2 linked regions of the Homo sapiens genome follow. The protein of the gene in region 1 purifies or fractionates together with the protein of each later gene. This does not show direct contact. Each region holds a gene or a part of one and is shown in the gene's direction. Other genes may lie near its edges.

Evidence for each region.
Region 2: the proteins of DYNLT2B (region 1) and BORA purify together in Homo sapiens (affinity purification with mass spectrometry; one large-scale study listed by BioGRID and IntAct). This does not show direct contact.

The regions. Positions count from the first base shown.
Region 1 is NC_000003.12:196,307,276-196,312,824, reverse strand, and holds part of DYNLT2B (dynein light chain Tctex-type protein 2B), read left to right. Parts: intron 1-5,549. UniProt on the Homo sapiens protein: Acts as one of several non-catalytic accessory components of the cytoplasmic dynein 2 complex (dynein-2 complex), a motor protein complex that drives the movement of cargos along microtubules within cilia and flagella in concert with the intraflagellar transport (IFT) system.
Region 2 is NC_000013.11:72,730,148-72,735,381, forward strand, and holds part of BORA (protein aurora borealis), read left to right. Parts: intron 1-1,133; coding exon 1,134-1,240; intron 1,241-4,812; coding exon 4,813-4,858; intron 4,859-5,234. UniProt on the Homo sapiens protein: Required for the activation of AURKA at the onset of mitosis.

The DNA.
Region 1 (5,549 bases):
GTATTCCCTGGATTCTTTTGTGTTTGAGAATGCCTGCCTTTTGCCTTTAAAGTAGAATATACTATGGGCCAGGCGCGGTGGCTCACGCCTGCAATCCAGGCACTGTGGGAGGCGGAGCCGGGTGGATCACCCGAGGTCAGGAGTTTGAGACCAGCCTTGCCAACATGGTGAAACCCCGTCTCTACGAAAAATACAAAAATTAGCCGGGCGTGGTAGTGGGCATCTGTAATCCCAGCTACTTGGGAGGCTGAGGCAGGGGAATCACTTGAACCCAGGAGGCAGAGTCTGCAGTGAGCCGAGATAGTGCCACTGCACTCCAGCCTGGGCGACAGAGCGAGACTCCATCCCCCGCCCCTCCACCCCCAAAAGTAGAATATACATAGTTTTGAGGTAATAATTTATTTTCTTGACCCTTGTGCTTCATTGCCCTCTGACATTCAGTGGTAACTTGTTGTCAAGAAATCTGAGCCCAGCTTGATGTTCTCTGCTTAAGGAATCCTCACCTTTGGCTGGACGTGGTGGCTCACGCCTGTATTCCCAGCACTTTGGGAGGCCAAGACAGGTGAGTTACCTGAGGTCAGGAGTTTGAGACCACCCTGAACAATATGGTGAAACCCCGTCTCTAGTAAAAATACAAAATTTAGGGGCTGGGCATGGTGGCTCACGCCTGTAATCCCAGCACTTAGGGAGGCCGAGGCGGGCGGATCACTTGAGGTTGTGAGTTCGAAACCAGGCTGACCAACATGGAGAAACCCTGTCTCTACTAAAGATACAAAATTAGCCAGGCGTGGTGGCGCATGCCTGTAATCCCAGGCTGAGACAGGAGAATAGCTTGAACCCAGGAGGCAGAGGTTGCAGTGAGCCAAGATTGCACCATTGCACTCAAGCCTGGCCAACAAGGGCGAAACTCTGTCTCAAAAAAACAAAACAAAAATTAGCCGGGCTTGCTAGTCCCAAACTCCTGACCTCAGGTGACCCACCCGTCTCGGCCTCCCAAAGTGCTGGGATTTCTTGGGAGGCTGAGACAGGAGAATTGCTTGAACCTGGGGGGTGAAGGAGGTTGCAGTGAGCTGGGATCGTGCCAGTGCACTCCAGCCTGGGCAACAGAGCGAGACTCTGTCTCAAAATAAATAAATAAATAAATAAATAAATAAATAAATAAAATAATCCTCATCTTCACCTTTATGCTCAGTAGCTTTTCTAAAGATTCTGACTTTCTAATGAGCATTTTATAGCTTTCAATCTGCAGACTTTATTCTTTCCATATAAAGGAAATTTCCTTATATCTCTGAATATGTTTCCTATTCCATTCGTTACTTCCTTTTCTTCAGGACACCAAATATTGTTATGTTGAGCCATCTTTGTCTTCTATATTTATTAGTTTTTCTTTCCCATAATTTCTTTCTTCTTCTTTTTTTTTTTTTGAGACAGGGTCTCACTCTGTTGGCCAGGCTGGAATGCAGTGGCGCAGTCTTGGCTCACTGCAGCCTCAAGCAATCCTCCCATCTCCGCCTCCCAAGTAGCTGGGACTACAGGCGCCTGCCACCACACCCGGCTAATTTTTGTATTTTTTGTAGAGACGGGGTTTTGCCATTTTGCCCAGGCTTCTTCCTTTTTTATTGCCATTTACTTGTGATTTTCTTAAACCAGTAATTGTTTTCATTTGTGTCTTTTTTCTTGCCATTTTGAATTTATTAGTTCTGGAATGATCTTTTCTGGGTATTCTGTTTGTTCCCTAGGGCCGTGGTCTTTCTTTTCATCTCTTTATGTTGCTTAATAACCTGATTGAGGCTGGGTGCCGTGGCTCACACCTGTAATCCCAGCACTTTGGGAGGCCGAGGCGGGTGGATTGCCTGAGCTCAGGAGTTCATGACCACCCTGGGCAACATGGTGAAACCTCGTCTCTACTGAAATACAAAGAATTAGCCAGGCGTGGTGGTGCACGCCTATGGTTCCAGCTACTTGGGAGGCTGAGGCAGGAGAATCACTTGAACCCAGAAGGCGGAGGTTGCAGTGAGCCGAGATCGCCCCACTGCATTCCAGCCTGGGTGACAGAGGGAGACCCTATCTCCAAAAAAACAAAAACAAAACAAAACAGGCCAGGTGAGGTGGCTCACGCCTGTAATCCCAGAACTTTGGGAGGCAGAAGCAGGTGGATCACTTGAGGTCAGGAGTTCCAGACCAGCCTGGGCAACATGGTGAAACCGTGTCTCTACTAAAATATAAAATTTAGCCAGGTATGGTGGTGCGTGCCTGTAATCCCAGCTACTCAGAAGGCTCAGGTGGGAGAATCGCTTGAACCCAGGAGGTGGAGGTTGCAGTGAGTTGAGATCATCCCACTGCACTCCAGCCTGAGCGACAGAGCGAGATTCCCTCTCAAAAAACCAAACCAAATCAAACAAAATCATAACCTGGCCAGGTGCGGTGGCTCACGCCTGTAATCCCAGCACTTTGGGAGGCCGAGGTAGGTGGATCACCTGAGGTCAGGAGTTCGAGACCAGCCTGACCAAGATGGTGAAATCCCGTCTCTACTAAAAATGCAAAAAAAAAAAAAAATTAGCCGAGCGTGATGGCGCATGCCTATAATCCCAACTACTTGGGAGGCTGAAGCATGAGAATTGCTTGAATCTGGGAGGTGGAGGTTGCAGTGAGCCTAGATCTTGCCATTGCACTCCACCCTGGGCAGAAGAGCGAAACTCTGTCTCCAAAAAAAAAGTTAAAAAATTTGATAACCTGATTGAGTACTTATTTCATTGAGTTTATAAGCTTACATTGTTCTAGTATTGTGAATTAATTGTGAGGAATAACTCTTCGTTCCTTGATTTGTATTACTTCCTAGGTTGATTTTTTTCTTTCTTTTCTTTTCTTTTTTTTTTTGGACTGAGTTTCGGTCTTGTTGCACAAGCTGGAGTGCAATGGCGCAATCTTGGCTCACCTTAACCTCCACCTCCCAGGTTCAAGCGATTCTCCTGCTCAGCCTCCCAAGTAGCTGGGATTACAGGCGTGCACCACCACGCCCTGCTAATGTATTTTTAGTAGAGATGGGATTTCTCCATGTTGTTCAGGCTGGTCTCAAACTCCTCACCTCAAGTGATCCACCCGCCTCAGCCTCCCAAAGTGGGATTACAGGTGTGGGCCACCGTGCCCAGCCAAATTTTTTCTCTTACACAGCTCCTTCCTTCCTTCTTTCCTTCCTTCTTCCTTCCTTCCACTGGAAGTTTCTTTCTTTTCTTCAATATTTTTTGAAAAATTGTTTTGTGGACCAGGTGTGGTGGCTCACGTCCGTAATCCCAGCACTTTGGGAGGCCGAGGCAGATGGATCACCTGAGGTCAGGAGTTCGAGAACAACCTGACCAACATGGAGAAACCCCATCTCTACTAAAAATACAAAAGTAGCCAAGTGTGGTGGTTCATGCCTGTAATCCCAGCTACTCGGGAGTCTGAGGCAGGAAGATTGCTTGAACCCAGGAGGCAGAGTTTGTGGTGACCTGAGATCACGCCATTGCACTTCAGCCTGGGCAACAAGAGTGAAACTCCATCTCAAAAAAAAGAAAAAAAGAAAAATTGTTTTGTGGAGATGGTGGTCTTGTCATGCTGCCTAGGCTGGTCTTGAACTTCTGGCCTTAAGAGATCCTCCCGCCTCAGCCTCCAAAATTGCTGGGATTACAGGCGTGAGCCATGGCACCCAGCAGAAGCTTTGTTCTTCTTTGTTACTCTTTTGTTTTTGCTATTGCATCTTTGTTTATTGCCATTTGGCTGCATTTCATTTTGTTGTGCCCATACATCATAATTGCTCTGATATAATGTGGGGGATTTTTAATTGCTCTGATATGATGTGGGGGATTTTTAATTGCTCTGATATGATGTGGGGGATTTTTAATTGCTCTGATATGGTGTGGGTTTTTTTTTTAAGTTCCCCTCCCCACCATATCTGAGACTATTTTATTTTCCCCTCAGAACCGTGATTTAAGGGCTGAGTATTATTCTAGACACATTTCTGTATAATTTGGGATTGGTTAGAGAAAGGAGGAAGCTCAGCTGAGTTGTGTGCAGTGTTTTTTAAAAATAACTTGGACTCTGTCTTTACACACTCTGAATCAGGTTCATGCCCCACATGGGAGATTGCCTGTAGTCTTCAGATTGTCCCGTTTACAGTGTAATCTTGGAACCTGCACGTTCATCAGAGAGAGCTGGCTCTTTCAGCTTCGCTTATTTCACTTCTTTTGTTTTTTTAAAACTCTTTCCACTATTCCTTGGTCAAAAAAGTAGAAAGATTCAAAAATGCCCATTCCATTTTTTTCTCTTCAGACTTGGTGTTAGTGAGAATTTTCAGGATTTTGCTGCTTTAGCAACGTAGTTTCTGGAGTAAACAGCTAAATGGTGCTGGATCACCTCGTTTTGCTCTGGAATCTTCATTTTTTTTCTTGTCTGTCTTACTGAACAGCTTACAGTTTCTTGGAGATCCCATGCTCTCCTGCTGTGCACATGCCCCTCGTTCTCGGACGTGTGGGGAGATGGGGCTGACCTGGTCCCCTCTTACTCAGCCCTCAAGACTCAGTTTATTGGCCGGCCACATCTTCCAAGAAGTCTTTTCCAGTGATTTCTTGCCACTGCCCAGACAAACAGAGGAACTGCCCCCACTGGCTCTGTGTTCCTGATGTACATCATACATGCCACTCCTTGAATTATAAGCATACTCAATTTATAATTTATTTTTCTATTTTCTTTTTTTTTTTTTTTTTCGAGATGGAGTTTTGCTCTTGTTACCCAGGCTAGTGTGCAATGGTGCGATCTCAGCTCACTGCAACCTCCGCCTCCCAGGTTCAAGCAATTCTCCTGCCTCAGCCTCCCGAGTAGCTGGGGTTACAGGGATCTGCCACCATGCCTGGCTAATTTTTATATTTTTTAGTAGAGACGGGGCTTAACCATGTTGGCCAGGCTTGTCTCAAACTCCTGACCTCAGGTGATCCACTGGCCTCACCTTCTGAGAGTGCTGGGATTACAGGCGTGAGCCACCGTGCCCGGCCTATTTTTCTATTTTCCTTTGAGTTCTTTATTACTGTGAGTTCTTTAAGGCAAGAAAAACGTCTTATTTATTTCTCTATCTTGAAGGTTCAGCTCACTAGCTGACTTATAGTAGGGGAAAAAGGAAGGAAGCTAAGGTTTATTGAAGGACTAGTATTTAACAGCACTGTTTAGATGCTTTAGATATTACTATATCTGACCGGGCGCGGTGGCTCACGCCTGTAATCCCAGCACTTTGGGAGGCCAAGGTGAGTGGATCACCTGAGGTCAGGAGTTCGAGACCAGCCTGGGCAACATGGTGAAACACCTTTTCTACTAAAAATACAAAAATTAGCCAGGTGTGGTGATGCATACCTGTAGTCCCAGCTACTGAGGAGGCTGAGGTAGGAGAATCACTTGAACCCTGGAGGCAGAGGTTGCCGGTGAGCTGAGATCGTGCCACTGTACTCCAGCCTGGGCAACAGAGTGAGAATCCATCTCAAAAACAAAACAAAAAAAAGATACTACTATATCTTACCTAACCT
Region 2 (5,234 bases), on another chromosome or scaffold:
TGGATCTTTCAACCTACCAAGTTACTTAGAAAAACTGCAAATAGGGTGGCTGTTTCTGCTACACTTTCATACAGGTTTTACAATGAGCAAGTATGTACTAGTGGAAGGTCGAGCAGTTTATATTGAGTCATTTCATCAATCTGACCTTATGATTTTTAATTGAATCATTAAAATTTATCTCTTGGTCTTACTAAAAATAAATAATAGATTGACGGCAGCTTAATCCTCAAAGTTGGAATGTATGGCATCTTGCGTTTTTAGGACTGAATTTGCCTAGAATATATTTCTAATTACAGATTAGGATTTGGATAAACCTTTAATTCAGTTGCATGGTTGAGTACAGAAAGGCAGCACTGGTTGCCATTCATAATTATTTTAAGGATCAACTATGTTGTGAGCTTTTGCAGCCACCTCCAAAGTGACTAAGGACTTTAATTTCAGTTCCTTCTTAGTGAAAGTAAAGACGTTTGTTAACTGTGAGAGATTTTTACTTTTACATGGGCTTAGTTTATCACACTGATGAGTGTTAATTGTGAAAGTTTTATATCTTTATTACTCTGTTGTGATTTTTCTCGTATTACGTAATTCCAACCCAGGTGAAAGATTCTGATATTTTAAAAGAGATACAGGCTGGGCGCTGTGGCTCATGCCTGTAATCCCAGCACTGCCAAGGTGGGCTGATGACTTGAAGTCAGGAGTTTGAGACCAGCCTGGCCAACATGGTGAAACCCCATCTCTACTAAAAAAAAAAAAAAAAAAAAAATACAAAAATTAGCTGGGTGTGGTGGCGGGTGCCTGTAATCCCAGCTACTCAGGAGGCTGAGGCAGGAGAATCGCTTGAACCGGGGAGGTGGAGGTTGCAGTGAGCTGAGATTACACCAGTGCACTCCAGCCTCGGTGACAGAACGAGACTCTGTCTTAAACAAAGAGAGAGAGAGATACAATTAAGTCAGTTGATCGAATGTGATATGATTACCCTTTGCCATTTAATTTCATGGTAAAGTCAAATTTTAAAATACAAGCTTTAAAATATTTTCATATTATAACCATTCATATTATTTCTCACATAGGTTAGCATTTTGATGAACTATTTTAGTTTGCCTTTACTCATAAGCTCACTTTCTTTTGTTAAGACTCCAGGGAAATTTAGATGGTCTATTGATCAACTAGCTGTAATAAATCCTGTAGAAATAGACCCAGAAGATATTCATCGTCAAGCTTTATACTTAAGTCATTCTCGGTAAGTTTTCCTTTCTTGCACCTAAGTCTAATAACACTCTCAAGTGAAGAGAGGTAGGAAATTCTAAATGTTGAGTATTTTTCTATGTAAAGGTATCAGGGAGAAAAAATTTTGATGCAGATTTTTTCTATCTAAATGAATGAGTTCAAAGAACTACATTCAGAAAGATTTTCTTGCCAACAGTTCCAGACCTGAGTAGATACCTTTTTCTTTTACAAGTAACCTTTTCCCTCTGCTACTGAGGTGACAGCTCTGTACCCCTAGCACTCAGTTAAGAGAAGAACATTTTGAAATTTGCACTTTTCTACATGGTTGTGGCTTCTGCCATTAACTTGTTTCAGTTTGTCTTTTTGATGATTTGGGGTAAAGCAAAATGCTGTTTCATTGTTATCTATGTTTGGGGAAACCTAAAACCCCCTCAAAGAGTTACGTATGCACTGAATGGAAGGGTATCCATTAGCAACAGAGCGGTTTTTTAGACATCATCCAACTGTAACAATTCACTTGGAATCTGAATTACATTTTCTAGAATTCTACATATCACCCAGTGCAGTCTTATTTGTTGATGTGTTGTTTAGGTTTCAAGGCACTAATGTACTGCAGATTTAGTTTTTTATTACAAAGTGTAAGGTCCTATTATTCTTTTGTAGTTTTAGGGACTCTTGTTTATATGTTTTATAGTCTGATTTTTTAATATTTGAAAAAAATCAAATACATGGTATGACCAGATTTTAATTTGCTGTCCTAAGGTAGACATGTTGTTAGTCCAAAACAAAGGATAATCCTTTTCCCTTTGACTTAAGAATTCAGTCACACAACGTTGCACACATATTGAGATATTCTGGTAAATACTTACTGGCTTTTCTCCTCCATCTTCTCTTTGCTTGGTAACATGATGACCATTCAATCATAAAATTAATGTCCACCCAGAGTGTTAATAGGAAGGGAATAGAATGAGGATGAAGCATGAAAGGATTTTAACTTAAATTTAAATAATACCTTTGAGGCCAGGTGTGGTGGCTCACACCTGTAATCCCAGCATTTTGGGAGGCTGAGGCGGGCAGATCACTTGAGGTCATGAGTTCAAGACCAGGCTGGCCAACATAGTGAAACCCCATCTCTACTAAACATACAAAAACATTAGCCGGGCATGGTGGTGCACACCTGTAATCCCAGCTACTCGGGAGGCCGAGACAGGAGAATCGCTTGAACCCAGGAGGCAAAGGTTGCAGTGAGCTGAGATCATGCCATTGCACTCTAGCCTGGGGGACAGAGCAAGACTCCATCTCAAAAAAATAAAATAAATAAATAAGTAAATAAATAATACCTTTGAAAGAGAAGGTGAGATGAATATCTAAAAGCAAATGAGTCACAGTGACTAATTTTTTGTTTCACACGAACTTAATTATGCTTAATTATTTTGTCTCATTTCTTCAATATATTGAATGATGGACAATTATTATATTGATCAGTCAAGAGATACTTATTGAGTACTGTGAGGGACTGTAAGAAACACTGAAGAAGTACAAGATACTAAGAGTCAAGAGTCAAAAATATAATTAGACCAAAGTTGTAACACAGTGCTTCTGTTCTTACTACTAAATGATATATTGTCTGCAAAGGTTTATAAAGATAATCTTGGTGTCTCTTAGTACATAGATTTATCATATAGAAGAATGGAAAAGAGTGGGAAAATATTATAATTTAATTTAATAATATAATTCAATGAATGGTTATGGCTTCTACCAAGGATAGTCAATATATTCTTCACAGAGCATCTCGTTTCATCCTTAGAAACAAGCAGTGTCTTTCAGTATCTCTTCTTACATATTAGCCCTCTACTTCAATTCTTCCCATCCTTTTCATGCCACCATCCACACAGAAAATTGTAACTGAAAAGCATACCAGTGTAAGCAGGTGAGTCTTGGCCATGTAGGTGACCAGTCCTGAGGTCCCCTCTCCTTTGCCACCCTGCAAAGGCTCAACATTCAGGCCACACCTATACCTATATGCATCATACTGGTGTTCAGTGGTATGCTGGTCAGGATGCTCTCCCCTGTATGACTTCTTAGAATCTTGTTTGATCTGACTCTAGAGTATTTGGCCACAGTGATTTTTACAGTTTCCAGCAATCACCTGAGTATTTCATGTTCTTGAAGTCCCTCTGATGAAGTAGCAAAAGGTTTCTGAATGCAGTAATCCTAGTTCAGAGCTTACTTGCTATTTGCTAAGCTTGTTATGTGCTGCCATTTTGACCATGATAAGATGAAGAGAACCATTGATAAGATGAAGGCCATTTTGTTATCCTCAAAATGGCTACTGTTCAAGCTGGGATATGTGGGTTGACACTGTAGTTTATTTTCTCATACTTCTCCCACTTGAAAAATCTACTTAATTTCTGAAATGTATACATTCTCATATAAGCTTTATTAAGCCATGAGCAAGTCTATATGTGAAAAAAATTCACACCATGGAATACTATGCAGCCACAAAAAGCATGAGATCGCGTCCTTTGCATGGACATGGATGCAGCTGGAGGCCATTATTCTTAGCAAACTAATACAGGAACAGAAAACCAAACCCCTCATGTTCTCACTTATAAGTGGGAGCTAAATGATGAGAGCATGTGGACATATAGAGGGGAACAGCACACACTGGGGCCTGGTGGAGGGTGAGAGGAGGGAGATCAGGAAAAATAACTGATGGATTCTAGACTTAATACCTGGATGATTAAATAATCTGTACAACAAACCCCAGTGACACAAGTTACCTGTGTAACCTGCATTTGTACCCCTGAACTTAAAATAAAAGTTAAAGAAAAAATTCTGAGACAAAATAATTTTAAATTGTAAAAAAAAATATGTCTTACCAATTTACTGATGGAAGGCAAGGATTCTTTCCTGTAATGGAATAAAGAAGTGGTCCTAGAAAGCTAACTGCTGAGTCCTTGGCAAGTATATGCTTTGTGCTTGGACCCAAAATTTTATATTAAATCTTGTAGCTGAGAAGTTTATATAACAGTAATTGCAGATTGTATCAAAGTGAAAAAAAAATTCATTTGGAAAAAATGTTATATTGTCAGTGTTTTATTTCAGAGTTAATATTTTTGACTGTTTAGAACTGTGAACTATCCTCATCTATTTTACAGTAAAAGTTGATTCTAAAATTATTGCCATGATAAACTTGTTATAATTGAAGAGAAAAACTTTGGACAATTTTTAGATGTATGTTGAATTAAATACTTCTTAATTTGTATTAAGGGACAAAGTTTATCAAATTTATATTGTTAAAAGCAATTTAATATCAATGTAAGTCTTTTGAAATAAAGTATCATTGCATTCAAACTTTGAATGGAAAAGAGGGAGGTAAGCCTAACAGCTAACTGCTGAATTTCAGAATACTGCCTAAATGTTACTAAATGTTACAAGATACCACTAGTATTAATTATAAAGTGAGCTTAACATTTGCCAGTTTTCAATGAAGGGAGATTATTTATTTGAAAGGTTATTTTTTAAAATGTTCAATAAGCTTAAGTAATAGCATGGTTATTTTTCTTCTTTATCTTTGTATAGAATAGATAAAGATGTGGAAGACAAAAGACAAAAAGCCATTGAAGAGGTAACTTAAACTGTTACTGATCATTAAATCAGTTAAGGATCAATTCTGCATGTACATCACTTCTTTTAGGAAGACTTTCTTCAATTCCTTCACTGTCCTATCTCCCCTCCAAGCCCTTCACAGTCCCATCTATATAAAGCACCCTTCTGTACTGTCCTAAGACCAATAATTTCCAGCTATCCCAGTACCTTGCATAGCACTTGCATACTGTTGTAATGATCAGTTTAGTGTTTCTGTCCCCTAGACGCAATCTTTTTTGGCCAATACTGTACTTCATCCTTTCATTCTCAGGACCTAGCACAATTTGTCTTCCTTGTGCCTTCAAAATGTTGATTAGCACAAACTTTGTTTCAAGTTGGAGTTTATGTAGAGGAAG